Regions from separate parts of the Homo sapiens genome. Here regions 1 and 2 are each reported to be linked to region 3. Evidence: microRNA targets listed by miRTarBase, many of them from high-throughput screens and not tested one by one. Region 3 holds a microRNA gene; each other region holds the end of a gene's coding sequence. Distances are from middle to middle.

Region 1 (5,298 bases), not on the chromosome of region 3:
GATCACCTGAGGTCAGGAGTTCGAGACCAATATGACCAACATGGTGAAACCCCGTCTCTACTAAAAATACAATATTAGCCGGACGTGGTGGCAGGTGCCTGTAATCCCAGCTACTCGGGAGGCTGAGGCAGGAGAATCACTTAAACCCAGGAGGCAGAGGTTGCAGTTAGCCAAGATCACGCCACTGCACTCCAGCCTGGATGACAGAACGAGACTCCATCTCAAACAAACAAACAACAACAACAACAAAAAAAAAACAAAAAACAAGAAAGCTGGAGTGGCTAAATTAATACCTAACAAAGTAGAATTTGGAGAAAAAGATATTAGTAGAGATAGAGGGTCATTCCATAATGAGAAAGGGGTGTCAGTTCATCAACAGGATGTAACATTCCTAAATGTGTATGCTCCTTACAAAAGAGCTTCAAAAATCAGAAAGCAAAATCTCATAGAATTGCAGGAGAAATAGGCAAATCCACAAATATAGTTGTATATTTCAACACCCCTCTCTCATAGAAAAGCAGTAAAGATACAGAAGATTTGAATAATATCAACTAACATGATGTTAATTGAACACTGTACCCCAGGACCACAGAATACACATTTCTTTCAAGTGCAAATGAAACATTTACCAATATAGATCATATCCTTTACCGTAAAACAAGTCTCAATACAATTAAAAAGGATTCAAGTCATATAAAGTCTGTATCTGGACCATTTAAAATTAAATTATAAACCAATAACAAAAAGATATATGAACATCCTCATAGATTTGGGAAAAAATATAATTTTAAATAATTCAATGGTCAAAGAAGAAATCAAAAGGGAAAATAGAATCTTGAATAGAATGGAGAATATATCAAAATTTGTGAGATGCATTTAAAGCCACAGAAGGAAATGTATAGCTCTAAGTGCTATATATACAAAAAAGAACCCCATCTGATTTATTGCCTTGATGGTGATGAGTTTCACAAGTCAAAATGTATCAAGTTATATACTTTATGAAATGTATTATATGTCAGTTATATTACAATAATAATGTTAAGACAGTCCTCTTCCCCTAAAAAGATTATTTTTAAGTTAGAATCAAACTTACATGCCAGCTCTAACAAGCACTCGCTTGTTGGGAAATATTAGGATAACTATACCACATGTCTAGAACTTTAGTGACAATACAGTTCTCTTTTACAAACTTTAGGCTATAGAATGGAATTAACATAGTTCCAGAAAAAAGCTGAGATCCTGAGTCCTCTATAATGGGAAAAAGGATTACTTAGGGTTCCAGGCAGTTTCCACCAAAATCTGAGTTTTCTTTTCCTTGAAATTTGATTGTACATGATTGCATACAGCTAGACATTTAAAAAATCTTTACAGTTAGGTTTAGCCCTATGGCTATTCTCATTAATAGAAAATGAGCAGATATTACGAATCCCATCTATGAACTAAGGATTTAAAAAGCACGTTTTCTCCCCTAAGTTTTCTTCACCTTTCTGCCAGCTTCATGCTGTTACCATTCTGGGGTACAGCAAGTGCCACAAGATGAAAGCAAGCTTGGTGCATGAATCCCACATGGAACAGTGCCACTCACCACCAGTTACATACACTCATGACCGATTGTTTTACATTAACAAGAAGTACATTTCTTTAGTATTTGATCCATTATGTATTTTTAGAGTTCTTTTTCATAGTAGTTGAGCCTACTCTATCACATGTCAAGAACAGAAGGCCTCTGTCAAGCCCCCATAACCCCTCAAGAAAAGGTCAGAGCTGTGAACTTACCCTAATAATTGTCCCCAAGTCTCAGATTGAGCAACCTTCCCCAGGTCTTACCTATAGAATTCCAGCAAGTACTTAGTTTGGCTTTCACTATTATCTAAAGTCATTCACTGGACAATACTTTGGGTTCTCCAAGTGAATTTACTTATAAAGAAGTAAATATCACAATAAAGCTGTTAAGAAAGTCCCTCTCCCTTCCAAAATCTTCTTTTTAAGTTAGCATCAAACTTAAATATCGGCTCTAGCAAGCACTCACATTTTGGGAAATATTAGGATAACTATACCACATCCCTAGAACTCTGGTGACAAAAAAGAAAAATTACTTATAAAGTAAATTCACTTGGAAAGTAAATTTACTTGTAAAATGAGTTTACAGAAGAGAGCTGGGCTAACTCTTTTGCCTAGAACTTACTTATTATATGGGAAAATAAGTGGGAAGGGGATAACTACTCCAGCAGATCTTTCTCTTTCCTGAACTTCCACCAGCCCCATAGGTCCCAGTCAGCTGGCCCTATCTCCTTTTATATCTCTTCCAATTGAAACGCAGACCAGGATAAGGAGTTTGCATCCAGCCTCTGGGCTTCCACAGATATGATCTCCCAAATATTATAAAACGGTGCCTTAGAACAAACCAGTAGTGAGCTTTTACTATAATCTGCACTACTTTATCTCACCATAGACACCCAAGCTGAGCCTTGATAACAAATCAGTGTTTCATCAAACCATGAAGGAGCTTCAAGTGCCCAACAGACTGAGGACTAACGGCAGGGGCCAGAGTCTGCAGAATCATTCTCTGGTCATGAGCCCTTTCTATGATCTTCCAAATTTCTACACTTCTAGATATGTTGAGATCTTCTTTTCTCTGTCATTACCTTCCATAAAAATGCCTCAGGGCAGCTGGGAAGGTGCAGGTTCTGTAGAGATAAACATATGTGCCTTGAAACCTCCTCTGTATCCTGAGTCCATAGGCTTTTACACTAGGGCTCACTTAGGGACAGAAATTTCATTATAGGATCTACTCCAGAGTTGTCCAATAGAAATACAATGTAAGCCACATATGTAATTTTAAGGTTTCTAGTATCCACATTAAAAAAGTAAAATGAAACAGGTAAAATGAATAACATACTTTATTTAATCCAATAGAGCCAACATATTATCATTGCAATACACAAAGGAAAAGTTATTAGTGAGATATTTTACATTATTTTTTGAAGTAGGTATTTGAAATCTGGTATATATTTTATACATTGAGCACATCTCAATTCAGACTAGGCATGTATGAAGTACTCAACAGACATTGGTGGCTCCTGGATACCATATGGGACAGCCAGTGCCATTCTCATCCTTGATATTTGTTTCTACCCTCACATGTACCTCTTAATTTCTTTTATAGCTGGTTCAAAAAACATATTGCACCTCTCTACCAAAGTCATAGCAGCTCACTCAACAGCTGTTTGTTCCTGCGCATAAAGAGAGTGTGGAAAAGCTGGAAGAAATCATCCTCTTCCTTTAAGTGCTTTATATTGTTCATATTTTCTCTTTGTGTTTTCTTTCTATTCTGAGAGAAAAATATGTATTGGATTGTTTTTCTCTCCCCACTACTCTTTTGTTTTTACTGCAATTAATTTGAAAGACGTATTTTTTTTTATTGTTCTATTGCTACTCTTAAATGTAGAGAGGAAGGCCAAAGGTTGTAGTGAAGATTGTAGTGAAGACTCTCTTCAATTTGAGTTTGAAGCTACCCAAATTATCATTATAATGGTTTGGTTTTAGAGCTCAATCCTATACATACTTATACAAAAACAAAGTAATTTATTTGCTTATTATTGCATTTTATAGAACCTGGCAAAGATATTACAAGAATGTAAAAATACAGGCCAATTTCTTTCATTAACATAGATGAGAACAAAATCTAAACAATACGTTATCAAAATAAATCCAGTATTGCATACAACAAATAATAATGGTGTATTTCAGCAAGTTGTGGTAACAAATTGAAGTAAATCAATGTACTAAGCCACATTAACAGAACAAAAATGATACACAATTGTCTCAATAATTTACAGAAAAGACATAGGTAGAATACGAGTTTTCATTTTATACAAAAACTTGTAGTAAATTAACAGATCAGAACTTCCTAAATTTGATCCCCTGCATCAATCAAAAAAAACCTGCATCAAATACTATGCTTAATGGCAAAATACTGAAAGCGCCCCCTATCCACCTCAAGACCTGTCATCAGTCAAAGATGCTTACTCTCACCACTGGGTGCATCCTAGTACTGAGTAACTGTTTAAAACGAAAGAACTGTCTGGGCGCGGCGGCTCACATCTGTAATCCCAGCACTTTGGGAGACCGAGGCGGGTGGATCACTTGCGGTCAGGAGTTCGAGATCAGCCTGGCCAACACGGTGAAACCCTATCTCTATAAAAATACAAAAATTAGTTGGGCATGGTGGTGGGTGCCTGTAATCCCAGCTACTTGGGATGCTGAGGCAGGAGGTTCGCTTGAACCCAGGAGGCAGAGGTTGCAGTGAGCCGAGATTGCGCCAGTGCACTCCAGCCTGGGCGACAGAGCGAGATTCCATCTCAAAAAAGATTCAAAAACCAAAAAACAACAAAAGAATTGAGAACACAGAAAAACAGAAGATCAGAAGGGAGAATCACATGCTGATAAGCCTCAGGGTACTTATCAGAAGTGGGTGGGAACAGAAGAATATTCAAGAGCTTGGACGACGCAGGGTCATAGGAATTACACAGTTGCAAGGATTAAAATATGGACAAAGAGTAGTGGGAAAGTAATATTTAGAGAAAGTGTAGATGGGGAAGCCATGGTTTGTGACATTATAAAAGGAGACAGTACCAGCCTCATAATCTAAGAAAACCCCAACACGGCGAGGGGGCACTGTCATGGAGAGAAGCAGGGAAGGGGAAGAATCCTCATAGGCCCTATATTCATGGTTATGCTGTAACCCAATCACCCAGTATCCACTCTGAGGCTGATACCTGGAGTAAGCACTGTGATTTTGAGCAAAATGGTTGAAAGAGAATGTAGGTCCCAGTGAATTGCTGCATACCCCCAGGATCCAGGCAGTCTTCTTGGCCACATCTACCTCCCAGTAATGCTTACCAGAGGAGAAGTGCTGGGAGCCCAGGACACTACAGTCATAATGCTTTTCCAGACAGGAAGGTCCAGATACTTTAGCTCCCACAAACCTCACTTGTCTCCGGTTTTTAGCCAGGACAAGATTTAAATTAGCTGTGTGTGGATTCAGGGTCACGTCAACTGTAGGAAAAGGTACAACATCAGCAGATGAGAACGGGGACATGGGTCTCGTTATGCTGAGAAGAGGAAACACAGGAAGTGGTTGGAGGAACTGGAACTATATGGCGGGGATGGGGGAGGCATCAACACCTAGGATCTGTGTGGCTATGTCTGGGGAGGGCATGTGAAAGGAGATCAGAATGTGCCAGCCCAAAGAGGCCATGGCTTCTACTTACCCCAGTAGCTTTGGACATCTGTCAG
Region 2 (5,298 bases), 190 Mb from region 3:
AAGGGTCATTAAAATGTTAATAAAAGAGTTTCTTGATGACAAAGCCTTTTCTGTCCACAGCAATATTATTGGGCTGGCTTATTTGGATAAAGTACACATTTCCCCTGTTCCTTTTACAGTTTGGAGACTTTTTTTTTTTCCCTAGTGGCTTGATTTCTTTTCTACTAAGGAGAGGTTAACTTCAACTGTATCCCCCTTTGCCTTGGATTCTAGAGAGGCCTATGGCCCTGAGCAGGTGCCAGAAGTGGCTTCGAAGCAGTTAGCTGCAGTGCTCAGTTCACATAGAGAGGAACAGCTTGTTCCTGGAATGTAATTTTCCCTGAACCAAATCCTAGCTGAGTTGGGAGACTGAGCTGGAAAACTTCCAAGTTTTACTGCCGAGCTTTAAGAATATTGTGTTTGTTTCAACAAGGGAATTGTAACTAGAATGCAATACAATAAAATGTTTTAGAAAACACTTCCCAACCTCTATTGGCTTGTGAACACCTTTTACGGTTATATAAAAACTTGCACATTTTTAGAAACTTAAATTATTATTTTTGCCTTGAATATGATAAAGAAATAATTTTTGTTTTTGTCTTTAGCACCTTAATATTATAATGCTAATTTGATGCAATATGTAATAATATTTGTAAAGGGAAATAGATGTCAATTTCCCCTTTTAACAAATGAGTCAAGGTAATAAATCAAAATAATTTTCTAAAAATAATTTGTCTATGAATAAATTTTGAAGTAACATTGTGTTTTTTTGGGAGACCATATGAATATTAAGACATAGACTGAAATTTAACTATGTGATGAACAATGGCATCAAAAATAGACAAACTTTTTTCATTATCTGCTATTGGAATTCTTCAGATTTCCCCTGAGTTATTTTGATAAATGTTAGTGTTTTGTTTCTAAATGGCAAGAAAAAGGGAGAAGGTTTTAGGTTGCTATTTGCAAGCATGTCCTAGTAAATAAAACATATGATGTGACAAGTATTTTCATCAAATGAAAAGTCGGGTTAGATATATTGTCACTATCAATTTTTTTTTTTTGGGACAAAGTCTGGCTCTGTCGCCCAGTTGAAGTGCAGTGGTACCATCTCAGCTCACTGCAACCTCCACCTCCCAGGTTCAAGCGATTCTCCTGCCTCAGCCTCCTAAGTAGCTGGGATTACAGGCATGTGTCTCCATGCCCAGATAATTTTTGTATTTTTAGTAGAGATGCGGTTTCACCATATTGGCCAGGCTGGTCTTGAACTCCTGACTTCACGTGATCTGCCCCCCCACCCCGCCATGGCCTCCGAAAGTGCTGGGATTACAGGTGTGAGCCACCATGCCCAGGCCACTACCAATTTTTAACATTACGTTTCAAAGTATGAAGGAATCTTGGTTCCGACTATGGAAGAATTTTAATCAAATAACATAACGAGGATCTGAGTAAAGCGTATCATTAGGCTAATTTGCAGAATTTTTATCATTTGTGTTCAGTCACTAACTTATTGCATGTTAACATGAGTGTTCCGTAAGCACTCTATCTTTAAGCAATGCTTCATTATGGAATTACATAATACTATATGACCACTGTAAAACAAACTGCAAATAAAATATAATAAAATAACAACAACAAAAAAATAAACTGCAATTTTCTTGTCAATGTGTGGGACTTGATTAGATCCTTGTTCAAAGGAATAAACGGCAAGAATCATTTCTTGGGAACAGGGAAATGTGAATATGGACAGGGCATTAGGTAATATTAAAGAATCACTGTTAATTTTGTTAGGAGTGATAATGGTAGTATAGTTATATAGGAAGAAGTTTTTATTCCTATGTAGTGCATACTGAAGTATTCAGGGGTGAATTGTCACAACACCTTGGGATTTATCTTAAAATACTCCACACACAAAAATAAAGACAATATGGCCAAATGTTAGTAACTATTAAACTTTCATGGTAGGTATATGGGGCTTCTTAAACTTCTCCCTCTACATTTTTGTGTTTGAAGATTTTCATAAGTTAAAAAAAAAAATGTAGTCACCAAGTAGTACAAGCCTCCCACCCACGCCCTCTAGTGGCTAGTGGTATTGAGCTGGGTGCAAACAGGCTGGCTGTGGTAGTCTTGAACACACTCAACCCATCCCCTCCAAAATAACACCAGCCACTCATCAGATACTTACAAGGACACTCTCAAACTTTTTGTTCTTTTATTTGTGGTTATTGAGGTTTCAATAATAGTAATGGAAGCAGACCTCATTAGTCCCTTTAACAACCTGAATCCAGAGGAACAACTTCTGGACCCTCATGAATTTGAGAGCCACCAGCTGGGGATAGCCTGTAGTAGTCTGAGGAGTGTCTAAGGAGGGTGGTGGATTCTGTCCACATGCCTGCGGCTCGAAGGGAAGGTTTTCATTGGCAGCCAGTTACTTAAACTTAAGAAAGAACACCACATTGAAAGCCTAAGGTCTTCCTTCTCTTTGGGGAGAATAGGTACATGTAAGGTGATAGGGAAGGAGAAAAATAGACATTCTCTTATCCAGCCTCCTTTGAATCTCCCTCCAGGTTAACTACTTCCTCTAAAACATTTGCTGACCCACATCCAGGGCACCCGGAAAGCCCACAATGTGGAGGCCTTTTTCTAATCCTCCCCCAACACTTTTGCCCCTACCAGCTGAGCAGTCTGCTTACCAAGGGTCACTTCTGCTTGTTCCAAAACTCTTTTACGCCAGTTGTTCTTATTGTTATGATTAAAGTGCAAACCAAGAAAACTTAAGTGTAGAACTCCCACCAGACAAAACATATAGGTCACAAAAAAGCACAGCTTGGACCCACATCAAAAGTTTGGCAGCCAGGCACAGTGGCTCATGTCTGTAATCCCAGCACTTTGGGAGGCCAAGGCGAGTGGATCACGAGGTCAGGAGTTCAAGACCATTCTGGGCAACATAGTGAAACCCCATCTCTAATAAAAATACAAAAATTAGCTGGGGTGATGGCACGTGCCTGTAGTCCCAGCTACTTAGGAGGCTGAGGCAGAAGAATCACTTGAACCCGGGAGGCAAAGGTTGTGGTGAGCCGAGATCACGCCACTGCACTGCAGCCTGGGTAACAGAGTGAGACTCAGTCTCAAAAAAAAAAAAAAAAGTTTGGCAACCAAGTGAACTTTTTATGTCTTCAAATAAAATACGTAAGATGTTTAAGATGTATATTTTAAGTGATTCTCAACTTCTACCAATTACATTAATAAGCCAATCAACTCTTTCATCTTGATAGTGTTGGATCAGAGGTTTTCCACCATCCTATGATTCTCTGTCCAGATTCAAGTGAAAATCCAAAAAAACTTCAAAAGGGAAGTTCAAAACCAAATCATTCAAAAAAACTTTTTTCCACTGAGGGAATACACACTTTTCCCCCCTGTTGATTATATCTCCTCCGGGTATTTTATTTAGGCTACTATTAAGGTCCACTTGCATTTTCTGCATGTGTGCTGGTAGTTGAGGGTAGACACTTCCCCACCCATCCCCCTTACACCCCACTTCAACCCCAGAGTGTGTGGGAAGGCCTCCTGGCCTTCCAGATTTTCCATGGGTGATCCACACATTGGGTAATCCACATGCCCATCATCAAGGCCTAACCATGTTAGAAAAGGGAAGGACAATGAAGCTGCAGGAAGCTCTTCTAGAACATTTCACTCAGCTGCCTCAAGGTCAGTCAGGGGTTTGGGCATCACTTTCTGGAGAAAGCCAGAGAGCAGGTGTGACCAGCTGCAGAAAGCGGAACCCTGGAATTGAGAAACCTGGGCTCTTTAGGGCAGCATCTGAAGTCCTTGGAGCTGAGCCTCTGGAAGAAGCTGTTAGGGACTGGCCACAGCCCATGCGATGACATTGTGGCGTGGGGTAATGAGTAACCTACCTCCACCCCTAGCTACACTTCTTGGAGAGCAGCTTAGATTCTCATCCCACTGCCAAGGTAAGAGATGGATCAGGCCACAGGTAGGTAGAGATGTAGCCTTTGGACCTGTCCCTTCATAGCCCAGGATTCCAAACTCAGGAACAGACACTATTCATGCAGGAACAATCTCACTGTTCATGAGGAGCTGGCTGCAGTTAAAGGCAGAAGAAGTGTCCCTCTCTGAGCCTCAAGTTCCACATTTACTAGCTGAAGAGAGTGGATCTAAATGTCTCTCTGGTCCCTTCCAGCTGTGCCTGCCTATGAGGCTGTGTGTGACCCACCTGCAGTGGTGAGCTCAGCCAGTCACTAGCAAGAAGGCATACCAGCCAACAGGTCCCTTCTCATTGGGGATGGGGGTAGGGGGGTGAATGGGACATCCCTGAAATTGGGGTGAGAACCTAGGTCTTGCCAAAAGGCAGGGCAACTGTCCCCTTTTAGACAGAACCAGGAGATGAGGATGGGGCAATGGTCTGTCTTCCAAAACCTTGAATCTGCCAGTTAGGGAAGGGGCTGCTCCTGCAGACTAGCGCAGGAGAGGGAGAGGGCGGTGCCGCTCTACGACCTAACTCAGCTTTGTGGCCAGAGGAAGAGGATGGGGCAGGGAGTCGCTTCATTTTATAGCAGCGTCTTGGGATGGGGCCGCCTCTTGGGTCTCCTCGTCAGGCCTAGGTGGGGAGGTTCCAGGGCCCGGCGCTCCGGTCACCGGCCTATCATTCCCCCTGCAGAAGGCTCCGCTTCTGGGCAGGGAAGCGGCCGGGGTCAGTCGGCTTTGGGCGCCCGGAATTCGGGCATGCTCCAGGACCGCAGTGGCGGCGGTGTGTCCCGCTCCACGTCCTCGGAGATGGTCCTGATGTCGCTGGCGAAGGGCGAGATGCGCGCGCGGGTCTTGAAGGTGGCCAGGCTGCCGCGGGGCCGCAGGCTCCACTGGCGCGTCAGCTTGTGGGCCTCCTCTTCCTGCTTCATCCTCTCCAGGACCTCCTGCAGCACCGAGCGGAAGAGCTGGGACACCTCCTGCACCTCGGGCTCCTGCTCCGCCAGCAGCTGCCGGAACCTGGGCGGGAGGGGAGGGCGCTGGGGACATTCACCCACAACAGCGGGTCTGGCACCCCGGGCGTCTAACCCCGAGGGGCTGCCCGTGCATCCTCATGGCCAATTAGTCCACTCTACTCTGCTCCTGAAGCGAATCAGGAACCACCCCACGCTGCTACTGCTTCAACCAATCCTGCGTTCAAATCCCAGCTCTGCCACTTCTGGCCTCAGTTGGCCTCAGCCTCCTCGTCTGTAATCTGAGATGACAGCTGCCTTTGTGTGAGCTATAATGAACTAAGATATGTAAAGATCCTGACACTTACCTAAGGTTGTTGATGAC
Region 3 (5,298 bases):
CGGAAATGTCCCCTCTCCTCCATCCCTCTGTCCTCGCTCCTAGGCCTTTGTCATGCTTTGCCTGGACTGGTGGTGGCCTGCACTGTCTCCCTGCCTCCTAGCTTGGTCAGCCCCTCGCCGCCCTCAGAGTGGTCTTTCCAACACCTCCAGGATGTTACTCCTGGCTTATGACCCACCCAGACCTCTCCACCACTGAGAGGCAAGTCCCAAGACCTGAGCCCCATACCCAGGGCCCTTCTGCCCACCTCTGTCCAGCTCGCCCACTGCTCTGCATTTCCCTGCCAAGCTGTCCTGCCCATAGTGTAGCCATTTGGCACTTAGCAGGACTCCCCGGCCATGGCAGGCATCCTCTCTGCCTCTGCCCACGTGTCCTCCTGCCTGGAATGCCTGCTGTCTCTTCCGTGCTCAGTGAACTCTTACCTCCTGGTCCAGCCCAGATGTCACCCCCTCCGTGAGACTTCCTGAGCCTTCTCCAGCCGAAAGGACTATTCCTGCCTCTGTTTCCCCAGAGCATGTTGTTCCTGCATCAGTTACAGCTCAGATTGCACTGGAGTGTATTGAGTTCCTAGGTACTGCCCCTTTACAAGCTTTTTGGACATAGTAAACATGTCTTGACATTCTCGGTCTTTTTCTGGGCTTTGCATGATACCTTTCAGGAGGCATAGCAAGCCCCTGATCAATGGTTTTCTCTGCACAGAGCTGGCATGACAGCTCCTCACCCTGCTAAATGCAAGTTGAGTGAGGAGTGGCTCTAGCAGGCAGAGTGTGCGGGGGACAGGAGTCGAGGGAGAAAGGGTTATTTCACCACCTCCAGGACCTGAGCCCTACGCTGCCAACTAACCTGGGTTCCTGAAGGGTAAATTGCAGGAGCCAGAACCCAGGCTGCTTTCTGGATCAGGCATTTGCCACTGCCTGCTCCTCGGTCCCCATGGTGAGCGCCCCCTCTGCTGCACAGAGCTGGTATGACAGCCCCTCAGCCTGCTAAATGCCTTCTTAGATTGGCTCAGCAGCCCTCTGGGGTGGGCGTCAGCTCTGCGTGTTCCTGGTGAGCCGCACGTTGCTGGGAAGACAGTCTAGGATCAGTTTAGGCTTTCTCTGTATTTGGCCTAAGACTCAGGAACTTCTAGGAAGCAAGGTACACATCTTAGCTCAGCTTCATGGGCTGTGTGTCTCTAATAGGTCGTGCACCTGCCAGTGACCTTGGGTGCCAAGAGGAGGCCACGTCAATCTGGAAAAGCCCCGTTCTTGGCTGTCCACAGTTCTTTTCCCTGCAGCTCACATTTGCTGTTATTAAGAATTGACGGTTTAAGGGAATCACAGTCACTCGCCTCTTGGTTTTTGGCCCAAACTAACCAGCAAGGCCGAACATCATTCCTGGGGAAGGAGCCATCCACCTCCCACACACCGAGTCTCTCTCCTGGTTTTCCAGTGACCAATCTCCAGCTCATGCTAATCTGCCCTTCTGTCTGGAAGGCTCTGATCCTGAATTTAGTCTGAGGCTTGACCATAGATCCTTTGCCATGCACCACCATTCAGAGTTGCTATGAAATGAAGACAGTGCATGGCAAGTACCTGGCCTGCTACAGAGGATCACTAAAATTCTTCTGATCCCCGTCCAGCCCAGAGGGCCGGCTACAGGAGGTGCTAGCTCAGGGGCTTGAGAATCCTTTCCCCCTCAGCCCCTGGGATGGGACCTGGTGAGCCCTCCAAATGTTTCCTGGTCCCTCCTGGGGCCCGGCTCAGTGCTCGCTTTGGGCACAGCGTCAGATGTGAGAAGAGGATGGACAGGAGGCTGTTGGCTGCTCCTGACCCCCGGCCCTCTGCCTTGCAGGGTAAGACCGTGATCCAAGCGGAGATTGACGCTGCAGCGGAACTCATCGACTTCTTCCGGTTCAATGCCAAGTATGCGGTGGAGCTGGAGGGGCAGCAGCCCATCAGCGTGCCCCCGAGCACCAACAGCACGGTGTACCGGGGTCTGGAGGTACCTGCAGGAGGCAGTGGGCGAGCAGGCGGGGCAGCCCAATGCCATGGGCCTGATCTCACCGCTGCCTCCTTCCCCAGGGCTTCGTGGCGGCCATCTCGCCCTTTAACTTCACTGCAATCGGCGGCAACCTGGCGGGGGCACCGGCCCTGATGGTGAGATGTGGGCACAGGTGGGACAGCGGCAGCTGGTTGTCCTCCTGGTCCCAACAGACAGACAGAGGCCACCCTGAGCCCCTTGGGTCTCAGCCTAGTCATGGGGAGAGGCACAGAAGGTGGAGGCAGCTTGGGGCTGTGGGTAGGCTTTGGGACCAGAGACCCAGTTTGAATCCCAGCGTCGTGCCTCTCTGCCTGGGAGACCCTGGCAATCCCTGAACTTCTCTGAGGCACAGTTTCCTCATCTGCAAAGTGGAAATAATAGGAAAGCCTCCATGACTGGGTTGTGAGGCTCAAATGAGACACATCCAGCAGCAGGCAGGGCTGGCCCGGAGCTGGCTGAGTGTTGGTGGCTCTGTTGATGATCATTACCGCTGACCTTCAGTGCTCACCACGTGCCTGCTGCTGTCAAGCACGGCATGGAGATGATCTCATTTCATCCTCTCAGCAGCTTCGAGAGGGAGTTGTGACTCTGCCTCTTTGCCAGATGACAAAACTGAGACACACAGCCGTGACTTACTTGGCAAGACTGAGTGACTAGTAAATAAATGATGGAGCAGAGAAAGATTTGGATGTAGTCTCTCTCGGGGTTGATGGTATTCAAGTCACTCCTCTGCCATTATCGGAGTGAGGTTGGCTATTACTGGATGAAGTCCCAGGCCTGTGGGGGAGGTGCAGCCCAGCTCCCAGACAGCCTGGGTGGGAGAGGTCCACATAGTTGTCGGGAACCCCGAGCCCCAGACAGGGGCACTGGATGCTGATGCCGGAGTGTGTACTAGGGACATGGATGGGGACGTCCTCATGCATCTGTGCACAGACAAACACGGTGCATGGCCAGGCGCCCACGTGCCTGGCTGCTGCACATGCCTGACCCAGGACATGTGCTGAGAGAGCCCGTGTGTACTTGCCCCGCCGCGCCCGGTGAGCACTCAGTGACTCTAGCAGTAAGAACAGACCTGCCTAGGTGATGGCAGGACCGGTTGGTGCAGGCTTCTGGGGAAAGGGAGCCTTGGCCAGAGCGTGGGGCAGATTGGGCTGTGCCGTGGCCTCCTTGGCAGGGACTTTTGGAGATAGGGCCAGACGCCTTGGAGGAGTGGGGTCGGGTAGGGGATGTCCTGGTTGGCACAGAGTCTGGTGGTTCCAGGTGAGGGACAACCATGCTGTAGGGTAGGGTGGGGTGGGGGTTGGGGGCTGGTGGCGCCATCCTCATGCATCACTGAAACACCTCCCGGGCAGGGCAACGTGGTCCTATGGAAGCCCAGTGACACTGCCATGCTGGCCAGCTATGCTGTCTACCGCATCCTTCGGGAGGCTGGCCTGCCCCCCAACATCATCCAGTTTGTGCCAGCTGATGGGCCCCTATTTGGGGACACTGTCACCAGCTCAGAGCACCTCTGTGGCATCAACTTCACAGGCAGTGTGCCGTAAGTCCCTGGGGATGGTGTAGGCTGTGGTGGCTAGGGGACGTTCACCTGCTCACCTGCTGTCTGCCTGGGGATGGGGCTGTGAACCCAGGGGTCATGCACGGACTCTACTCCCTTACTTGCTGTGTGGCTATGAGTGAGCCACTTCACCTCTCTGAGCTTCCATTTCTTCACCTGTACAGGGAGTGATTATCCTTAATTTGCAGAGTCATTGCAAGGATTAAACATGTTAATGAACAGGAAAGAGCTTCGCAGACTGGAAGTGCACCCTACAGCTGTGGGTAATATTGATTTCAGTGCTACCTCTGCTACTGGAAAGGGCACAGGGGAGCACAGAATGAACTGGAGGAGTCAGGAAGCCTTCCTGGAGGAGGTGACATCTAAGCAGAGGAGTTGGCCAGGCAGAGGGGAAGAGGCAGGAGAAGAATATATATGTTGGGAGAGGGAATAGCACATACAATGTTGCCAAGCCAAAAACTTGTGCTCTGGGGCATGGCAGGATCCTGTGTGGCTGGAGTGTGGAGTTTGGGGGCGACAGGGCAAGAGAGTGAGGGCAGGGCATGGTTTGAGTTGAGGTAGGGGAGGCAGGCCACTACCTGATCTCGACCATCCATGCACTCACTGGCTGAGCAGGAAATTTGGAGCTCACACTAAGGCTCAGTGGTGAGCACACACCAGGGACAAGGTCCCGGCTCTCAGGCTGGAGGTGGCGGCAGGGAGTGGTTCAGTGACCATAAGATACTTAGGAGTCTGCAAAGGTGTCTGGCCTTTATCCTGAAGGTGATGGGAGCCATGGAAGGCTTCAAGCAGGGAGAGTGGCTGAGTCAGAGTTCTGTGTCAGGCAGAGATTGCAAATAATGGCCCCCAAATTGGATCTGGCAAGAGGCTCTACTTTCTTTGACTCCTAACAGTGATGGCCCAACTTTGTATAATTGGGACAATTTCATAGATAAATCCAAATATTGGCCTGTCTTGGTCCCCTGGACCTGGATGCTCTGATCTTGCATTTCCTGGTGGTACCACTGGCTGGAAGTGGGTGGGTGCCCTCTGGCTCCCTGCATACCTGATCCACGCTGTTTCCTTTCCCTGCTGGCTCCTCTGGGCCCCTGTGTTGGCACCCTCATTCTCAGTGATCTCTCTGTGACCTGATGCAGGAGACTGGCCAGGGACTGTTGACCTCCAGGGAGGGGTGGTAGGGGCTTGAACCAGGGGAGAGATGGGGGATGTGGAGAAGGGGGCAGGTTCAGGTGAGAAGGATGCAGGGAGGCACAGTGGCCATTGCCTGTCCTGGAGTTGGGGTTGGGGTGCGTGTGGGGATGAGGGGGGTTGTCAGCGAGAATGTTCAAGATGGGCACCTGGGAGGGCGAGCGGGCTCGGGGGAAGATGAATCTCCTGTTGGTCACTTCGGGTGTTATCTGGGTGGAGATGCCTGGAGGCAGCCAGACGCCCGGGTCTGCAGCTCAGGGTCCTTCTTACCTCCTCTTCCAGGCCCCAGGCTCTGCCACCCCCTTCCCCGCAGCTTTGCTGGGGGTGGGAGTGGGTGGTGGCAGCGTTAGAACTGCTGAGAAGGGCCGTTTTCCAAAAGGCCTGCTCTGCCAGCCACGGGCCCCTGGGCTCCCCGCCTATCAGCGGGCGGAGCGGGCCTGGACCCCATTCTCCACGCTCTGATGAGCAGCGGGCTTAAAGGTGGGAAGGCCATAAATTAGTATTAGCTACTGTGTCGCTGGCTCCCGGGTGA

Evidence for each region. The annotated mature microRNA hsa-miR-4695-5p reads CAGGAGGCAGUGGGCGAGCAGG and lies in region 3 at 1,989-2,010, shown strand. An mRNA with a match to its seed (bases 2 to 7 or 8) in the 3' UTR can be bound and repressed. Matches are read on the target gene's strand: a 7mer-m8 pairs with bases 2 to 8, a 7mer-A1 pairs with bases 2 to 7 and ends in A, and an 8mer does both.
Region 1: miRTarBase lists TRIM6 as a target of hsa-miR-4695-5p. Seed matches in the 3' UTR shown: 7mer-m8 at 4,289-4,295.
Region 2: the mRNA of RD3 is a reported target of hsa-miR-4695-5p. Seed matches in the 3' UTR shown: 8mer at 2,999-3,006.

The regions. Positions count from the first base shown.
Region 1 is chr11:5,610,537-5,615,834 of GRCh38, reverse strand. TRIM6 (tripartite motif containing 6) reads right to left here. Exons shown (of 8, transcript NM_001003818.3): 7 at 5,274-5,298; 8 at 2,883-5,058. The coding sequence ends at 4,493. TRIM6-TRIM34 (TRIM6-TRIM34 readthrough) reads right to left here. Exons shown (of 14, transcript NM_001003819.4): 7 at 5,274-5,298. It also overlaps a transcript of TRIM5 not described here. Among named protein-coding and RNA genes, the nearest start is that of TRIM34, 12 kb to the left of the region's middle.
Region 2 is chr1:211,474,348-211,479,645 of GRCh38, forward strand. RD3 (RD3 regulator of GUCY2D) reads right to left here. Exons shown (of 3, transcript NM_001164688.2): 3 at 2,175-4,980. The coding sequence ends at 4,689. Among named protein-coding and RNA genes, the nearest start is that of RD3, 15 kb to the right of the region's middle.
Region 3 is chr1:18,879,962-18,885,259 of GRCh38, reverse strand. It overlaps MIR4695 (microRNA 4695), which reads left to right and starts at 1,985; the gene lies at 1,985-2,058. It overlaps ALDH4A1 (aldehyde dehydrogenase 4 family member A1), which reads left to right. Exons shown (of 15, transcript NM_003748.4): 6 at 1,832-1,981; 7 at 2,062-2,136; 8 at 3,373-3,560. RefSeq lists a silencer at 900-1,131.